Linked DNA regions of Homo sapiens: regions 1, 2 and 3 are each linked to region 4. Evidence: fine-mapped expression QTL. A gene starts in region 4. Each other region holds a variant in brackets. All regions are shown on one strand. Distances are from middle to middle.

Region 1 (4,268 bases), 39 kb after region 4:
AAGAAATTACATCATCTCTATTTTCCCTTGGCTCCAGCCCACTCTTGTTTGAACCTCCCACTTTTGTTGTTCCAACTACTTCTTGAGATGAAGGAAGGGCAGAACATTGGCCCTCTTCACTGAAGTCTTCACCCCTTAATCCAGGGTTCAATTTTTAGTTCACCTTAGCCTGTTTGAGATTAGAAGCTGGGCCTTAACTTACAGGTGTGTCCGGCATCATTCAATCAGCCTGTTAGATCCAGAATCCAGCACTGTGACGCTACATAACCATGGGCTCTGTCCTTCCAGTTCCTTTAGTGCCTTCCCTCACTGGTAGGTTCACTCTGAGGGCTTCCTTCCTTGAACTCCAGTGGCAACTATAGTCTGTTTCCCACAATTTGTTGTGTGTGTTTTTTGTTGTTTTGCAGCGTTTTCATATTGTCTTTTATGTAAGTCATGTTTCTGAACTATCGTATAAATTTCATTAGGGTAAGAATCATGTTTGCTTTATGCACTGTGTAACATGCCTTGCAGTCAGTATAGGCACTTAACCTTATTGATCAGTTGTTCCTTGGTGTTGAATAATGTGTTAGGTAGCCAGGTGGACCTGTGTCCTAGCCTGGAGAAGCTCTATGTCACCTTGTAGGAAGCCATCTGAATTTGACTCAGCATCATATGCTGGGCCTGTGCTGCACTTGAGCTTTCTTTCCAGCCGCCAGGAGGGATGGTTGTCCTGGCCAACAGCGAATTTAATGGGTGGTCAAAAGAAGATGTGCCTGCATAGAAGGCTGAAAGAGGGAGCTGGAAGTAGGAGGAGACAAGGAGATAGTGACACCAGTATCTTGTCACAGAAATCAAGGAAGGCAACAGTTTAAAGGAGGGGAGGGAGATCAGTGGTGCCAACTGGCTCAGAAGAGGTTTGCTGGGTTAAATCTCAAGATGAGCCCATGAGATCTGGTGGTTAGCAGAGGCCTTTCCTGACAACCCCATTTTAAGCACCTCTTCCCCATCACTCTATCTCATCACTGTTACTGTCTGTGTAGCCCTGTCATGAGCTAAAATCATCCTGTTTGTTTATTGCTAGCTTATGTGTCTAAAGTATACTCCTTGAGAACAGCAACTTTGTCTTTTTCACCTTTGTACTGAGTCCCCTGACATGGAATAAGATATGAATAAATGCACAGACTTGTCCAAAATCATCCAATTAATAAATGGTAAGGCTTTGCTTTTTTGGGAGAAGTGCAACAAATGTGAGCACATTTTAAATATTGATGTTTAAAGATTGTGAAAATTAAAAATTAACAATCAGCCGGGCATGGTGGCTCATGCCTGTCATCCCAGCAGGAGGCCAAGGCGGGTGGATCACCTGAGGTCAGGAGTTTGAGACCAGCCTGATCAACATGGAGAAACCCTGTCTCTACTAAAAATACAAAATTAGCCAGATGTGGTGGCACATGCCTGTAATCCCAGCTACTTGGGAGGCTAAGGCATGAGAATCGCTTGAACCTGGGAAGTGGAGGTTGTGGTGAGCCAAGATCACGCCATTGCACTCCAGCCTGGGCAACGAGCGAAACTCCGTCTAAAAAAATAAATAAATAACAATAATAGAAGGTTACCTCTAGAAGAAAGGCAAATGAGAAAAACTACATATATAATCATTCATCTTTTATTTAGAGATGAACGATAATACAATATCACAAATTAAAATTTCTGTAATTTCTACAAATTATACAGAGAAGGAAATTTAGAACTCTAAATGCTTTCATTATTTAAGAAGAAAGAATCAAAAGATATGAATTAAGCATCGGACTCAAATTAGAAAAAGAATAATAAAATATACTAGGAAACCAGGGGGAAAGAAATAAGTACTAAAGCAGAAATTGGCCAGGTGCGGTGGCTTACGCCTGTAATCCCAGCACTTTAGGAGGCCGAGGCGGGTGGATCACCTGAGGTCAGGAGTTCAAGACCAGCGTGACAAACATGGAGAAACCCCATCTTTACTAAAAATACAAAATTAGCCGGCTGTGGTGGCACACGCCTGTAATCCCAGCTACTTGGGAGGCTGAGGCAGGAGAATCGTTTGAGCTCAGGAGGCGGAGGTTGTGGTGAGCCGAGATCACGCCATTGCGCTCCAGCCTGGGCAACAAGAGCAAAACTCTGTCT[C/CA]AAAAAAAAAAAAAAAACCCAGAAATTAAGTAAATGACATAAGTCATTTTTATGAGCACAATCTCATAAATTGTGTACACACACACACACTTCACATCAAAATCAATAATATAGATGCAAAAATTCTAAATAGAACACTAAAAAAATCATCAATCTAGTAAAGGAATAAAGTATCCTAACTGCCAGCATGTATTATGCATCCTCATGTAGGACTTGCCCATGATTCCACTGCTAGAAAGTGATGAGTCGGATGGCAGCCCAGGTCTACCTGACTCTGAGAGCCCTGAGGCGTTTGGTGATTTTTGTCCCTAGAATGTAATGGTGACCTCATTAAAAGAAATCCACTGATATAATATATCACAGGAGTAGGTCAAAGGAAACAAGCAGAAACAAGAGTCTCTCATAAAAAAAAATTTTTTTAAGATGAAAATCAACATTTATTTTTTATTTTTTAAACTCCCCTAGTAAGGAAAGAAAGGGCCAGGCACAGTGGCATACATCTGTGATCCCAGCGCTTTGGGAGGCTGAGGTGGGCGGATCACTTAAGCCCAGGGATTCGAGACCAGCCTGGGCAACATAGTGAAACCCTGTCTCTACAAAAAACTAGCCAGGCATTGGTGCATGCCTGTGGTCCTAGCTACCCAGTAAGCTGAGGTGGGAGGATCACCTGAGCCCAGGGAGGTCAAGGCTATAGTGAGCTGTGATAGCGCCACTGCACTCCAGCCTGGACGAGGGTGAGAGAGGCCTTGACTCAAAAAAAGAAAAAAAAAGAAAGCAAGAAGCTTCGTTAACATGATAAAATAAATCTTCTAATATATAACACCCAGCGTCATACTTAATAAGCAAACACTGCTGTCAGGGACAAGATAGATCCATTCTAACTACTATTATTGAACAGTGTCCTGAAAGGATAATCTAACCAATGCAGTGAAGCAGGATAAAGAGTATACTACTGGAAAGCAGACAGGTTTGGGCTACAAGCTAAGTATCTACCTAGAAATCTGAAGATAATAAATTCTGAAAAATGGTCAGACCTATTAAGAGAAAGGCACAACGATGTTCACTAAAAGATACATTTTAAAACTTTGAAAATAGCTTTTCAGTACAGGTAATAGCCATTTGTGATTGGGGGAAAAAAAATCTAATTCAGCACATAGCAACTAAAAATATAAAATACTTTGGAACAAAGTTAACAGGAAATGTGCAAGCCTCATATGAAGAAAACCAGTAAGCTTTTCAGAGGAACATGAAGAAAATAAATGGAAAGACAGGCACACTATCGGTATTCTATGAGAGAAAGACAATGTTTTAATTTTAAAGATGCTACGTCTTCTTTAATCCAAAAATTTAAATGCAAGTCTGCTAAAAAGTATCATTTTTTAACTTGAAAGATTATTCTAAAATTAATCTGAGATATGTGAAATAACATTTAAAAATTGAAAGAAAAAAAGAATTTTGGGGGAAATTTATTACCAGATAATGCTTATTATAAACCTATGCTAAATGACGAGTTAATGGGTGCAGCACACCAACATGGCACATGTATACATATGGAACAAACCTGCACATTGTGCACATGTACCCTAAAACTTAAAGTATAATAATAATAAAACTTTAAAAAATAAAAATAAAAAATAAACCTATAAGTTAAAGTAATTTGATACTGACCGAGGACTAGATTAAGAATCAGCAAACTTTATTGTTGAAGGAAGTAAGACTTAGAAGAGTTTAAGTTGACCAAGGCCACAGAACTCCAAATGAATAGTGTCAGACTTTCAAACCCACACTCAACCACACTGTAATGCTGCCTTCCTAAAATATACATTAATACATGTATTCAGAAAAACTATGAATAAGAAGTACCTAAAAATATTAATATTAGTTATCTGTAGGTGATAGAATTATGGGATGACTGTTCATTTTTCCCCCATATCCTTTTTCGAATTTCTTCAAATGTACTACAAAGAACATGTATTGCTTTTATAATTGGACAAAAAGGACAATACCTTCTATTTTCAGAAACCGAAACTTCATTGCCCCTTCAATGTGGGAATCCAGCCAGACCCTATTCTTGGACAGCATCAGTGAAAGGGGCTTGGGAAAGCTCTTGGGCGTAGCAGCAGAGG
Region 2 (4,000 bases), 29 kb after region 4:
TTTTGTTACCTAAGATCACACCTCCTCTAAGATGAACATAAGTCATTATATAGTTGTCTGTTTTGTATATAAAATATGTGCTTAATAAAACAAACAATGGAAACAAATAATCGGGATGCACATTTAGGTGATATTTTAACTGATTAACCTCAAATTTTAGCATCGTGTTCTCCTTCCAAACAGAATGGTCTCCTTTGTATGGTTTAACTATCAACTGAAATTCAAGTATTCCCCTACCTCCCATATCTTCCTTGGATGATGCTTTAGCTACAGGACAGCCTTTGCCTATAGAACCTGATTCATGTTTGACCTTTTAACACCTCTGTGGGAGAGAAGAATCATTCATCTAATTGTGGTTTACTAAGTCCTTGACTTCCACCATGTTGAAATATTGGGTATGTACCATCTGTTCCAGAATGGGTGACTCAGTGGTATGAAGAGACCTTGTAAGGAACCAAATAAGTCTTGATGGTCAGTTAGAAATTATGAGTCTCTTGAAAAACCAAAGCCTGAATCATCCAGAGAGAAACACTTCTTAGAGGAGATAGAAGAAATTCCCTAGCAAAAGTTCCAAGGGCCACTGAGTGCCATTCACAATTGTTGAGGACACCCACCTACCTTGTCCATGGATGCCCATCATGACAACCCCATTAACACCTTTGATTCCATGGATCCCTGGGTGAATCCAACATCATAGTCCTTGAGTTCTTCCAATTTGGTTCAAGAACAGGAGAGCTAGAGCAGGAAATATCAACAAACAACCCCCTCTTCTGTCTCCAACCCTGAGATGCAAATGTCTTTTCCTGTCTCCACTCCTACTGTCTGGTGATCTTTGTGCAGCAGGTATGTGCCTGAAGGAGGTCTCCAAGCCAGTTTCTGTGTGCTGTCATCTGAGATGGGGTTCCCCTTGCCAGTTCTCACACCCCACAAGACCCACCATACTGATCTCCTGGCTAGCACACACCAACCCCAGGGAAGCCTTTTCTTCACACTTGGAACCTAGATCTTGATTTCCTTTTGTGAGGTCAGAATTTGTTTAACTGGAATGTGGCACAGCATTGAATTCTTCTGCCTTGTCTATTCCAGCCTCAGAATTCTGTTTTTCTCCCACTTTGCAGTGGTCTTTGAGTTTTAACACTGTGGAACAGTATCTTTCCCCGATGATGCCCCAGATGGAAGGTTTGAGTTCTGTCCCTGGGTCCTCTCCATACCCTACCTGTTTAATGGCCCGATGTCTTGATGCCTTCTCGCATCAAGGCTCTGCGCCTACAGTCCTTCATCCAACCAGGAATTCCAGAACCCATCAGGTACCCTAGATCTTCTGAACCAGTGGGATCAGAGTCCCCGTTTTGAGTAGTACAGAGAAGAAAGTTCCCCCTTTGTGTTTACCTCCCTTTTTGTCTGCCTACTCCAGTTCCCCCTTCCCCCTGAGTGCTCAAGCTGCCTAACATCTTCCACTGCCTTCAAACAAGGGAAGCCAGAAAGTTCCAAGCCTCTTCGTCCACAGTTTACTTTTGTCCAGTACAGCCTTGGTGACCTCTGGGAGCTCTCTCCCTGAGAAGGTTGTCTGAGTGAATTAGATGAAATGTGGTGGGTGGGTTATTTGGTATGTCATCTATAACCATGAGCTAGGACGGCATGCGCTTGCCTGGGCTTAATGCTGTTACTTTCCATTAGAAAAAGATCACCTTATCATTCATCAGACACTCTACAGAATCTCAGAATTATGGTTCTGCACAATGTAAGTGAGGGCATACATCCACCTACCCAGGAACTGAAGTGGAATCTCCCCCACCCCACTTGTGGCATCTCCCCACGATTGCTCTTCAGACAAATCCTCATCTGTTTAGTTGTCATTCTGCTGGGGACAATGCAATCTAAGTTATTTCATTTAGTTATTTTCATCCCCTTCCCCTCTCTCATTGTATCCTTCACCACAGACAGCTCTTCCAGTTTCCAATAATTGTTTATACTCCTTATTTCTTTTTCTTTTTTTTTGAGATGGAGTCTCGCTCTGTCACCCAGGCTGGAGTGCAGTGGCGCGATCTCGGCTCACTGCAAGCTCCACCTCCCGGGTTCATGCTCTTCTCCTGCCTCA[A/G]CCTCCTAAGTAGCTGGGACTACAGGCGCGTGCCACCACGCCTGGCTAATTGTTTTGTATTTTTTTTTTTTTTTTTTTTTTTTTTAGTAGAGACAGGGTTTCACCATGTTAGCCAGGATGGTCTTGATCTCCTGACCTCATGATCTGCCTGCCTCAGCCTCCCGAATAGCTGAGATTACAGGTGCCCGCCACCACGCCCAGCCAACTTTTGTATTTTTAAGAGAGATGTGGTTTCACCATGTTGGCCAGGCTGGTCTCAAACTCCTGACCTCAAATGATCTGCCCTCCTCAGCCTCCCAAAGTGCTGGGGGTTACGGACATAAGCCTCCATGCCCAGCCTGTTTTTGTTTTTTCTTTTTTTAATTGACAAATAACAATAGTCTATATGTTTTGAAATATGTATGCATATATTGTGGAATGGGAAAATCAAGCTAATTAGCATATGCATTATGTCACATACTTTTTTGTGGTGAGAACACTTGAAATCTACTCTCTTAAGCAGTTTTCAAGTGTATAATACATTGTGATGAACAGTAGTCACCATGTTGTATAGTAAGTCTCTTGAACTTAAAAAAGGAAAGAAATTATGAGTCTCTTCACATACTGGTATTAAGCAATATTTGTTTACAGTGCTGGAAAGGAGCTTCCTTACTTATTAGGAACCTCAGGTGGACCTCTCATGGTTGCAGATGGCTTCTCACTTACAAAGGAGATTGTGACCAGCTGTTGAGAACTGTTTGGCTTTACTTCCTTCAGAGACCAGACTTGGTTGTATGTCAGAGTAGTCCCCCCCTTATCCTCAGGGGATATGAGCCCAGACCCCCCAATGGATGCCTGAAATCACAGATAGTACCAAACCCTATATATGCTATGTTTTTTTCCTATACATGCATACTTGCGATAAAGTTTAATTTATAAATTAGGCACAGGAAGAGATTAACAACAACTATAATAAAACAGAACAGTTATAAAAATACAGTGTAATAAAAGTTATGTGAAGATGATCTCTCTTTCTCAAAGTATGTTATCGTATGTAATATTTTCAGATTGCAGTTGATATGGATAGCTTTAAACCTCAGAAAGGGAATCGCAAATAAGGAGGGATTACCATATATCCTCGCTAAGAGTCCTCTGACTCTTTTTCTCTCCTCAGACTCACCCCACACAGACCGCGTTTCTCTCCAGTGTCGACCTACACACTCACTGCTCTTACCAGATGATGTTGCCAGAGTCAGTAGCCATTGTTTGCTCCCCCAAGTTCCAGGAGTGAGTATAGAGGGCATGGTTCTGGGTGTTTCAAGGGGGTAGTAGGGAAGAAAGCCTCAGGGGAAAAGGTCTCTATTCTTGTGGACTTGTCCTTTGTAAAATACATAGATTATAATGTAAGTTGGTTATTCTAAAGGGCTTCCTTTTAAGCCCCATATCATGATTTATCTATCATGCTTGTTCAAAAAGATATCCAAGTAACAACTTAGTTGCTTTTCTAAGAAAAGTCTACAAGAAATTTGAAGTGTTTGACTTGAAGCGATAGGAATGTCAAGAGTTTTATGTTGGATTAGAAAGTTTCAAAATCATAAAATATAAAAAAATAAAAAATAAAAAATAAAAAAATATAATAAAAAAATAAAAATAAAAAATAAGAAAGTTTCAAAATCAAACACATTATCTCAGAATGCACTTCTTTTTCATACCAAATCCTGTCTCTACTCCCACTTTGATTATTTACTATGAATTCTCCAGCAAAACTAGTGTGATGGCAGTAATGAGTCATTCTCTAACTGTGATTCATTCACCAGAGAAGAGACCTGTGAGGCAGCATCCTACAGAAGCTGTCTCACAATGACCTCTGCCCTGCTGTGTGAGTGTGCATGCTGGTGTGTGTGTGCGTGCATATGTTTGGGA
Region 3 (4,000 bases), 23 kb after region 4:
CCCTCAGGGCTGTGGTGTTTGCCCAGGCTGCAGAGTTCTGGGGTTGGTCTCTGCATCTGTCGCTGTACAGAGTACCCCAGGCAATGTGCATCAGCAGCCAAGGTTGTGAACCACTGAGTGGCAGGACTCCTGCTGTGTGGGAAGGGCTTTCACTTGTATAGATGCTTACCTTTCCACTGTCGGGATGGAGTGGAGCAGGGTTGCATGAGCACCAGGGAATTGTGACCAGCTGTTTTCTCCTTTGGCAGATGAGGAATGAATTTACCATTACCCATGTTCTCATCCCCAAGCAAAGTGCTGGGTCTGATTACTGCAACACAGAGAACGAAGAAGAACTTTTCCTCATACAGGATCAGCAGGGCCTCATCACACTGGGCTGGATTCATGTAAGCAATTCTGAGCTGTCCGAGAGTTAGTCTCTGCCTCTCCCATGGTGGTATAAATACATGAGTGTTTCTTTGAACAAAGTCAATTATATCCAGATTATTTATTGTTTTTCTCTCTTTTGGATGCAGTCCTTAGCATACTTGACTATTGCACTTTGGTATTGTTTTCTGGGAACACTTAGGGCTTTTAAATTTTTTTAACTTTTTATTTATTTTTTAGTAAAAATAAACTGTTTTCCCTAAAGTTCCAGTTTCCCTCTGAGTGTAACTGGTGATGGGATGCTGGCCTAGAATATAAGTGGACATTGACCTTAGAGACTATGCCTACTGTGTACAGATGATGTTCCTTAAAGGTATATAATTCAAAATATTTTAAATGAGCCAAGGAGGTTAATTCAGATGCTTGCATTTGGTCTTTCTTAAAGCACCTTTATATAAACAAGAAGGGCTATAAATACACATGATTTTCAAGTGTCTGCATATCTTGTGCAGCCTTCTGGTAATGTTCAGGTAAAATATAATGCCTTCCCTAAAGATTATTTTTAAATTTTTCTTTCTATTCCTTTTCAACCCCTCACTCTCATAGCCCAAGCTGCATTTTATGCTGTATGACAGAGTTACAAATAAATTGGCTTATTCTTGGATTACACATACTTGTATGCCAGAATTTGGGAAAGACTGACCTGTGAGGCAGTCCCATGTGCCTTCTGTCCTTTCTTCTATTCAATTACATTCATGTTGATGATTTGCCTATTATTGTGTATCCCCATCCCACCCCCATTGTAGTAGATGGGGGAGAGAAAACTTGTTCCTTATCTGCCAGGGCATACAAATTTGAGTAAGGTATGATTTTAGCCTCATGAAGGAGATTAAATAAATAGACAATTAATAACTTCACCTGGGGCAGAACGTGCTAAAGGCCACAAGAGGTGCCAGCGAGGCACTGTGGAATTCAGAGGAAGGAGGGACCATGCCTGATAGGGTTTAGTAGAATGTTGGCAAGCTGGGCCAAGGGCAAGTTCCTTAAGGAGCAGACAGGTGGAGAAGAGGCGGACTCTGTCCCTGGAGCACTGGGGGGACCAGTTCACTGAGATTTATGGTTCATATCAGGAAACAGTGGTAGATTTTTTTTTTTTTTTTTTTGAGACAGAGTTTCACTCTTTTCACCCAGACTGGAGTGCAATGGCAAGATCTTGGCTCACTGCAACCTCCACCTCCCGGATTCAAGCGATTCTCCTACCTCAGCCTCCCAAGTAGCTGGGACTACAAGCGCC[C/T]GCCACCATGCCCAGCTAATTTTTGTATTTTTGGTAGAGATGGGATTTCACCATGTTGGCCAGACTGGTCTCGAACTACTGATCTCAGGTGATCCACCCGCCTCAGCCTCCCAAAGTGCTGGGATTACAGGCATGAGCCACCACGCCCGGCTAGATATGTTTTAATGTAGTACATTGGAGCCGAGTTCTGGAGGGTCTGGGGTGGACAGGCAGAATTGTTCCACTTTTTAGTAAGTGGAAAATTCCTAAAGGTTTTTGAGTAGAGCAATGATATGATTAAAGCCATACTTTAGAAAATTTAACATAAATACAGTTTTAAGGTAGGTTGTGGCAAGGAGATGATTTAAGAGGTTAGTGTGCTGATAAAGCCTAATAATGATAAGAGCTAGGGTGATGCTAGTGTGTTTGGGAAGGAGGAGATGAATGTAGGATTTCAGAGGATTTGGGAAATGAGTAATAGAGGATGATGACTCAGAGTCAATGGTGACTCAGAGATTTGGGGCCTTGCAGTGATCATCTCATAAGCAAAAGTAGGGGATCCAGGAGAAGGATTTGGTTTGAAAGTGGGGTTCAGTTCTGAGCATGTTAAATTTCAGGTATTGATGAGATATTAAATCACTGGAGGTAGTTATCAGCCAGTTGGCAATGTAGGGCTAGAACTTGGGAGCAAAGTCAAAGCAGGAGAGAGGGCTCTGGGAATCCACTATTTAGTGCTGATCTTGGAAGCCCTGGAAGTAGGAGAAGAGTCTAGAGCAAGAAAAGGTTCACTGGCAACTTGGGGGACAGGCTACCTAATGTAACATAGAATGTAGTTAGCAATGGAGCAAAGAGATGTATGAAAAAGGTGAGGGTAGTGGTAAGGCACAGAAGCCATAGGAGGAGGAAGGCTCTTTTGTTTTGTTTTGTTTTTGAGACGGAGTCTCACACTGTCGCCCAGGTTGGGGTGCAGTGGCGCAATCTTGGCTCTGCAACCTCCGCCTCCCAGGTTCAAGTGATTCTCCTGCCTCAGTGTCCTGAGTAGCTGTGATTACAGGTACCCGCCACTATGCCTGGCTAATTGTGTGTGTGTGTGTGTGTGTGTGTGTGTGTGTGTGTATTTTTAGTAGACTGGGTTTCACTATGTTGGCCAGGTGTGTGTGTGTGTGTGTGTGTGTGTGTGTGTGTGTGTATTTTTAGTAGAGACTGGGTTTCACTATGTTGGCCAGGCTGGTCTCGAAATCCTGACCTTGTGATCCTCGTGATTATAGGCATGAGCCACCGCACCCGGCCAAGGAAGGCTTTAAGAAAAAATTTCCAGATGTTAACCATGTCACATCCTATGGAGAGCTCCAGAATGGTGAAGACTCGGATCGGCCTGGATTTGATGAAATTATTGAGGATCTCGATTTAGTGTGTTTTAGGCATTAATGGGAGTAGACTGTAAGAGTTTAAGAACTCATAGGGATTAAGTTTGTGGAGACAATGAAGTATACACTACCATTTTGAGCAACTTAGCTCTAGAGGAAAGGAGAAACATGGAATGGTGGTTTAAGGAGAAGTTGGGTTGAGAGAATGTTTGGTTGATTGTTCAAAGTGAAAGGCTTGAACATGTTTTGTTTTGATGAAATATAACACATGTAATAAGAAAGCACACAGAAACTAAATATATACTTTAGGCCGGGTGCGGTGGCTCAAGCCTGTAATCCCAGCAGTTTGGGAGACCAAGGCGGGCAGATCACGAGGTCAGGAGTGCGAGACCAGCCTGGCCAACATAGTGAAACCCTGTCTCTACTAAAAACACAAAAATTAGCTGGACATGGTGGCGCATGCCTGTAGTCCCAGCTACTCGAGAGGCTGAGGCAGGAGAATTGCTTGAACCCCAGAGGCGGAGGTTGTGGTGAGCCAAGATTACGCCACTGCACTCCAGCCTGGGCAACAGAGCGAGACTTGGTCTTGGGAAAAAAAGAAACTAAATGTACACTTTAACAAATCATTAAGCAAATATCTATGTACATACACTACCTAGGTCAGGAAACAGAACACTGTCAGGAGCATGCATGCCCTAAGGGAGGGAAGTCCTCCCTTCCTTGCTTCGTTTATAATTTCACCACTTCAATGTGTATCTCTAAACACTATAGTTTACTTTTGCCTGGCTTTTACCTTTTTGTAAATGGAGTTATACCATATGTATATTTGTGTCTTGCTTCTTTTGCTCAACATTTTGAAGGTTTATCCACATTCTTGTGTGTAGTTTTCTGAACATGTTCTTATGCCCAATGAGCCAACAATGGAGATGTAAAAGGGCAGGAGAGACAAGGTAATGTGGTGATAAGGAAGGATCGAATGAGAAGTACATAGAGG
Region 4 (4,268 bases):
AAGTGCTGGGATTACAGGCGTGAGCCAGCGCACCTGGTCCAGGCCTGTGTTTTCTAAACCCCGATGTTACATTTCAGATTAAGAACTTCACCTTCTAGGCATCTTTTGCTGCTGCCCAAAAATGAGCAAGTAGGAATGAGCATGCAGGAGTGCAGGAGACCTGACGTTGGCATATGCAAGCGGCCAGATGGAGGCTGCTATATTCAGGAAAAGTGTTCATGGCTGGGAGTGAGCACCGGAAGGAAAGAGCATCTCAATTCCTAACCTGGTCTAGTCTGCCAGGTGAACTGCTGAAGCCTATTTGCTGAAGGAATACCTTCCACGCTTAGCCTCCAATCTTTAGGGCAGGGGTAGGTAGGATATTCTCATCAGTTATGCCAAGAATCTTTTATAGCTTTGATTTCCTGATTGTGTATACAAAATTGTTTAGTTTTTAAACTTTTCCAGTTAAACAAGAAATGAGGAATGTAAAATTTTTACCTTGGCCAAGATTTTCTTATTTCAGGTCCCTAGAAAGCTGAGTATTGAACTTTGCCCCAGATATCAAAAACTCTGGTCAACATTTACAAATTCTCTCCCTAAAAAGACTAGATCCTGCTTCCTATATTCACTTAGCTATTACCTTAAGAACTGCTAGCAACTGGGCATATTAACTTTCTAATATCAGGAACAGCCTCTATGTGGCGCTAGCTATGTTTACGACTATGCACACCCCTTATATGTGTGTCTCAGTTATAGCTTCTTAAAGTCTTCTCATCATAATCTTAAAATCTAGGATGTTTGTAAATTTTCTTTACTTGTTAAGCTAAACATTATAAAAAAAAGAACTACTTTAGAGATTGTGCTGAATGGGAGCAGATGCCCCTCCCTACCCCACCAGCTGTACTTCTACCTGTGCTTCCACCATTAGAGTATCCACCTGCTGGGTTTGTTTGCTGATGTATCCCTAACACCTAGAACAGAACCTGGCACATAGTAGACACTCAGTAAACATTTACTGAGTGAGAGGTTGAATGGATCAGATTTTGACCTGTGTTGCCTCCTGCCAGGACCCCATCTGCACTATAATGCCCACCCAATGACCAGCATCTCCAGTGCATCAATTTCTTTAGGCCCAACCCATCATGTTTACATTCTGAAGAGAGTCAGTAGAGAGAGTTTTGAAGACACAGTAGAGTGCCCTATACAATTATCTTCCCAGATTTATCTGCAGTAGATCCATGAGAGTTGATAGTAGACCCATGCACATTAATGCTTGCTGGGGGCAGAAGGGGAGGTGATATGATGCAAGCAAGTACTTTCAACCCTAAGTCTGAAAAGTTGATGACTACACAAAATCACTTCAGGTAACTCCAACAGAAATATACACAACGGAGGTTGGGAGAAATGAGAGATCTGGAGGCTGGCTAGGTGGAGGAGGCAACACCTGAATTAGGGATTTAAGCTAGACCTTGAAGAATAGGTCATGCCATCACACTAACAAACTCACAGGGAGGCTCCCAAATTTTGGGAAAGTGTCCCCCAGAGACTTAGACTTTTAAACCAAAGCCTAATGTTTCACAAAGTCTTCTGAGACAGAATGATTAGCAAGCTTGTAGGACCTTTTTGTAAAGAGGATGTATATGGATTCGTACAGACACACATCTACATGCAGAACGTGCCATTCTGTATTTGATGCATAAAACCACCTTGTCCCGGTCTCAGGGCAGGAACAGTGTCATACAGATTTTTGTGTCTCCACTGCTTTTGCATAGCGGCTCTTAGAGATTAAACGCTTTTTTTCCAAATATTTTATAGGTTTTTTGACATTAAAACGTTAGTCTCATCTGGGTGCGGTGGCACACGCCAGTAATCCCAGTACTTTGGGAGGCAGAGGCAAGAAGATCGCTTGAGCCCTGAAGTTGGAGACCACAGTGAGCTATGATCACACCACTGCACTCCTGTGACAGCCTGGGTGACACCGCAAGACCCTGTCTTAAAAAAAAAAAAAGTTAGACTTATGTTCTTTTCTAAGCAATAAAATTAGTCTTAGATATTGCCTAATATCTAAGACTACCAATTTTTGTGTAGAATGTAATACAAGCTAAAAAATACATTCGAAAGACTTTCTGTCCCCCAATTTATAAATCCTGGTTAGTTTAGCTAAGTCTGCAGTTGTGCTGGGATCAGCAATCCCTCCTTAAATGCAGGAGTATTGTGAGTGTGATGAGGGACTACCCCAAATCAAAATAATTTTAAAAGCAAACCTTAGCTTGCTAATTGGTTCCACTTTCTTCCTTGTTCCTTTTCCTTTACCAAGATGGCCGCTGTGTCGTTCGCTCCTCATTGGTCGGATTTTCCGCAGGTGCCGATTCTAGCCCCACCTACTAGCTCTCCGTTCCAAGTCCTAAATCACTGGGAATGTAATAGACAGACGAACGGGAGTGGGCGGAGCGGGCGCCGGATGTGACGTTTCCGGAACCTCCGGGTGTCATCCGCGGGGAAAGGTGGGGAAGGGTCCCGGGAACGTGGTGGGGCAGGGCCTCCGAGCGTGGTTGGACTTTGAAGGGGATCGGCCGCCGTGAGTGTGGGGCCTGCAGCCTACTCTCCCCGAGTCCCCTGCCCGGCCTGCCTCGCTCGAGGCACCCGACGGCTTCTGTCTCCGCGGGCTGGCGCCTGACCAGCCAGGCCCAGCGGTTCCCCGCCTACTGCATTTGAAAGATCCCGAAAACCCTGGATGATTGTGCCTGGGGTTGGCAAGTTCGTCTTGAGTGCCTTCAAGAAGGGTTCCTCAAGCAGTTGTCGATAGAGCCCTCCCTACTGTATACGCCCCCTCCGCTCATTCCTGCTACTTCCTTTCTCCTCCTCGTATTTCCCCCTCGGTCCTTTACGCCGCCTTTCCCCCTCATTTGCAGATGCTGCATCCCCTTTTTGGAATTGCTCAACCAGGTGGTAACCGGCGCCGCTTCCTGGCCTTGGGAGGTGGTTCCTTTCTTAACCCACAAGAACCTCTCCCAAGAGGTACTGAGATGCAACAAGCATCCTCTGTTTCAGTTAACTTTCATGGGCCGTGGACTAGGTTTACTAATTACTTGGGGAGGTTTTAGATATGCTTGCGGCTTTCTGAGTCCCTAAGGAGGCCTCGTGAGAGATGGACTATCTCTGCATCCCTAGTAGTCCTCACGGCTTTTGTGCTATTAGTGAGGGTGTTTTAGAGGGGAAGGTTTGTGGAGGAATTGTGACCCGAATATTGAAGAGACCTAAAGATGGAATTGGCTGAGAGAAGACTACCCCTGAGGGAAGAGTTGTAGTAGAAAAGAAAAACTGGATAGATAAATGAAACTGAAATGTGAGGATGCCTGGGCGGATTGGAATCCTGACTGAAGCAAAAGATCTCTGTTGGGGAGGGCCAGTTGCCACAGGGCCTTGAATTCCAAGATTTATTCTACTGTAGTTTGTGTATTCTAGAGCATACTGATTAGGGTTTGCTGTAATGCAATGTGTGTCAAATGCCCAGTTTTATTTTGGAGATGATAGTGGTGATATCTGGTTGGAATTTGGAATCTGATTCTAACAGCAACTATATCTAGAAAGACTAGAATTACTGGAGTTTTGGGACACCAGGGGTTTTTGCAATGCAAGTTACCATCGTGCCTTTTTGTTATTCAGTGTTTAGTCTATGAAGATGAGTAAATGGTTGTTTTCAAGATTTAAGTCTCTTGCCATGATAATGATGAATGAATGATTTTATAGATTGACTATAGTGGTTTAGTGAGCAGAGTTACAATTATGAGCATTAATTCCCAGACCAGTTCCCCTAACTCACCTTGTGCTCAAATATGAAAAAGGATACCACAGAAAATGTCAGTTACTCTCAGATTAAGTAAAAATGGTCAACCTTGAAGTTAGTTAACAATCCTCAAGAAAGTTCACTGAGTGCACTCTGCCAGGTACTGGGGTGGAGGTATGTGGGTATCTGGAAGGAGAAATAATAGAAAATAAAAGATGCTGTTCCCACTTTTACAGTGCTGTGGGCGGAGCCCCCTAATGGCAAAGGATTTGATTAACTTGAACTGAACCTTTGGTTGGTCCACTGTGGTTCTACTCCTTATACCACCTAATTATGGTACAGGGGTTGTATGTTTTCTAGTCTGCCAGTACTCTCATCGTTGTGATTTGGGCTTCCTTGAGGGTCTCAGCCTTCTTGTAGGAAAGTCCTTATTTAATAGGAGCCACAGCATTTGGTATGTTTCTCTTATATTTTCTTCTTAAGGTAGAGGTCTGTGAGA

Which allele goes with the higher level. Positions count from the first base shown, and alleles are read on the strand shown. Sizes are in standard deviations (SD) of each study's normalised expression. Not every link is listed here.
In carriers of allele C in region 1, the expression in monocytes after triphosphate RNA of the gene that starts at base 2,451 in region 4 tends to be higher than with CA alone (large effect, 0.76 SD a copy in Kim-Hellmuth 2017).
For the expression in tibial nerve of the gene that starts at base 2,451 in region 4, A is the low allele of the variant in region 2 and G is the other (small effect, 0.27 SD a copy in GTEx).

The links. PIP is the estimated chance that this variant, and not a neighbour inherited with it, causes the effect.
Region 1: its variant is the best candidate, but not a certain one, in a credible set for the expression of STAMBP in monocytes after triphosphate RNA (Kim-Hellmuth 2017, PIP 0.76).
Region 2: its variant is the best candidate, but not a certain one, in a credible set for the expression of STAMBP in tibial nerve (GTEx, PIP 0.80).
Region 3: its variant is the best candidate, but not a certain one, in a credible set for the expression of STAMBP in subcutaneous fat (GTEx, PIP 0.72).

Annotation. Positions count from the first base shown.
Region 1 is chr2:73,865,982-73,870,249 of GRCh38, forward strand. It overlaps STAMBP (STAM binding protein), which reads left to right. Exons shown (of 10, transcript NM_213622.4): 10 at 1-1,187. Among named protein-coding and RNA genes, the nearest start is that of ACTG2, 25 kb to the right of the region's middle. The variant C/CA (reference allele first, on the strand shown) is at 2,143.
Region 2 is chr2:73,856,003-73,860,002 of GRCh38, forward strand. It overlaps STAMBP (STAM binding protein), which reads left to right. Exons shown (of 10, transcript NM_213622.4): 8 at 3,252-3,364. It overlaps LOC112268419 (a long non-coding RNA gene), which reads right to left and starts at 975. Exons shown (of 3, transcript XR_007087106.1): 1 at 619-975. The variant A/G (reference allele first, on the strand shown) is at 2,099.
Region 3 is chr2:73,850,128-73,854,127 of GRCh38, forward strand. STAMBP (STAM binding protein) reads left to right here. Exons shown (of 10, transcript NM_213622.4): 7 at 249-386. The region is part of intron 1 of LOC112268419 (a long non-coding RNA gene); the gene reads right to left. Among named protein-coding and RNA genes, the nearest start is that of STAMBP, 23 kb to the left of the region's middle. The variant C/T (reference allele first, on the strand shown) is at 1,661.
Region 4 is chr2:73,826,511-73,830,778 of GRCh38, forward strand. It overlaps STAMBP (STAM binding protein), which reads left to right and starts at 2,451. Exons shown (of 10, transcript NM_213622.4): 1 at 2,451-3,000. LOC105374807 (a long non-coding RNA gene) reads right to left here and starts at 3,888. Exons shown (of 3, transcript XR_940246.3): 1 at 3,806-3,888; 2 at 2,247-2,394. RefSeq lists a silencer at 2,222-2,440 and an enhancer at 3,948-4,268.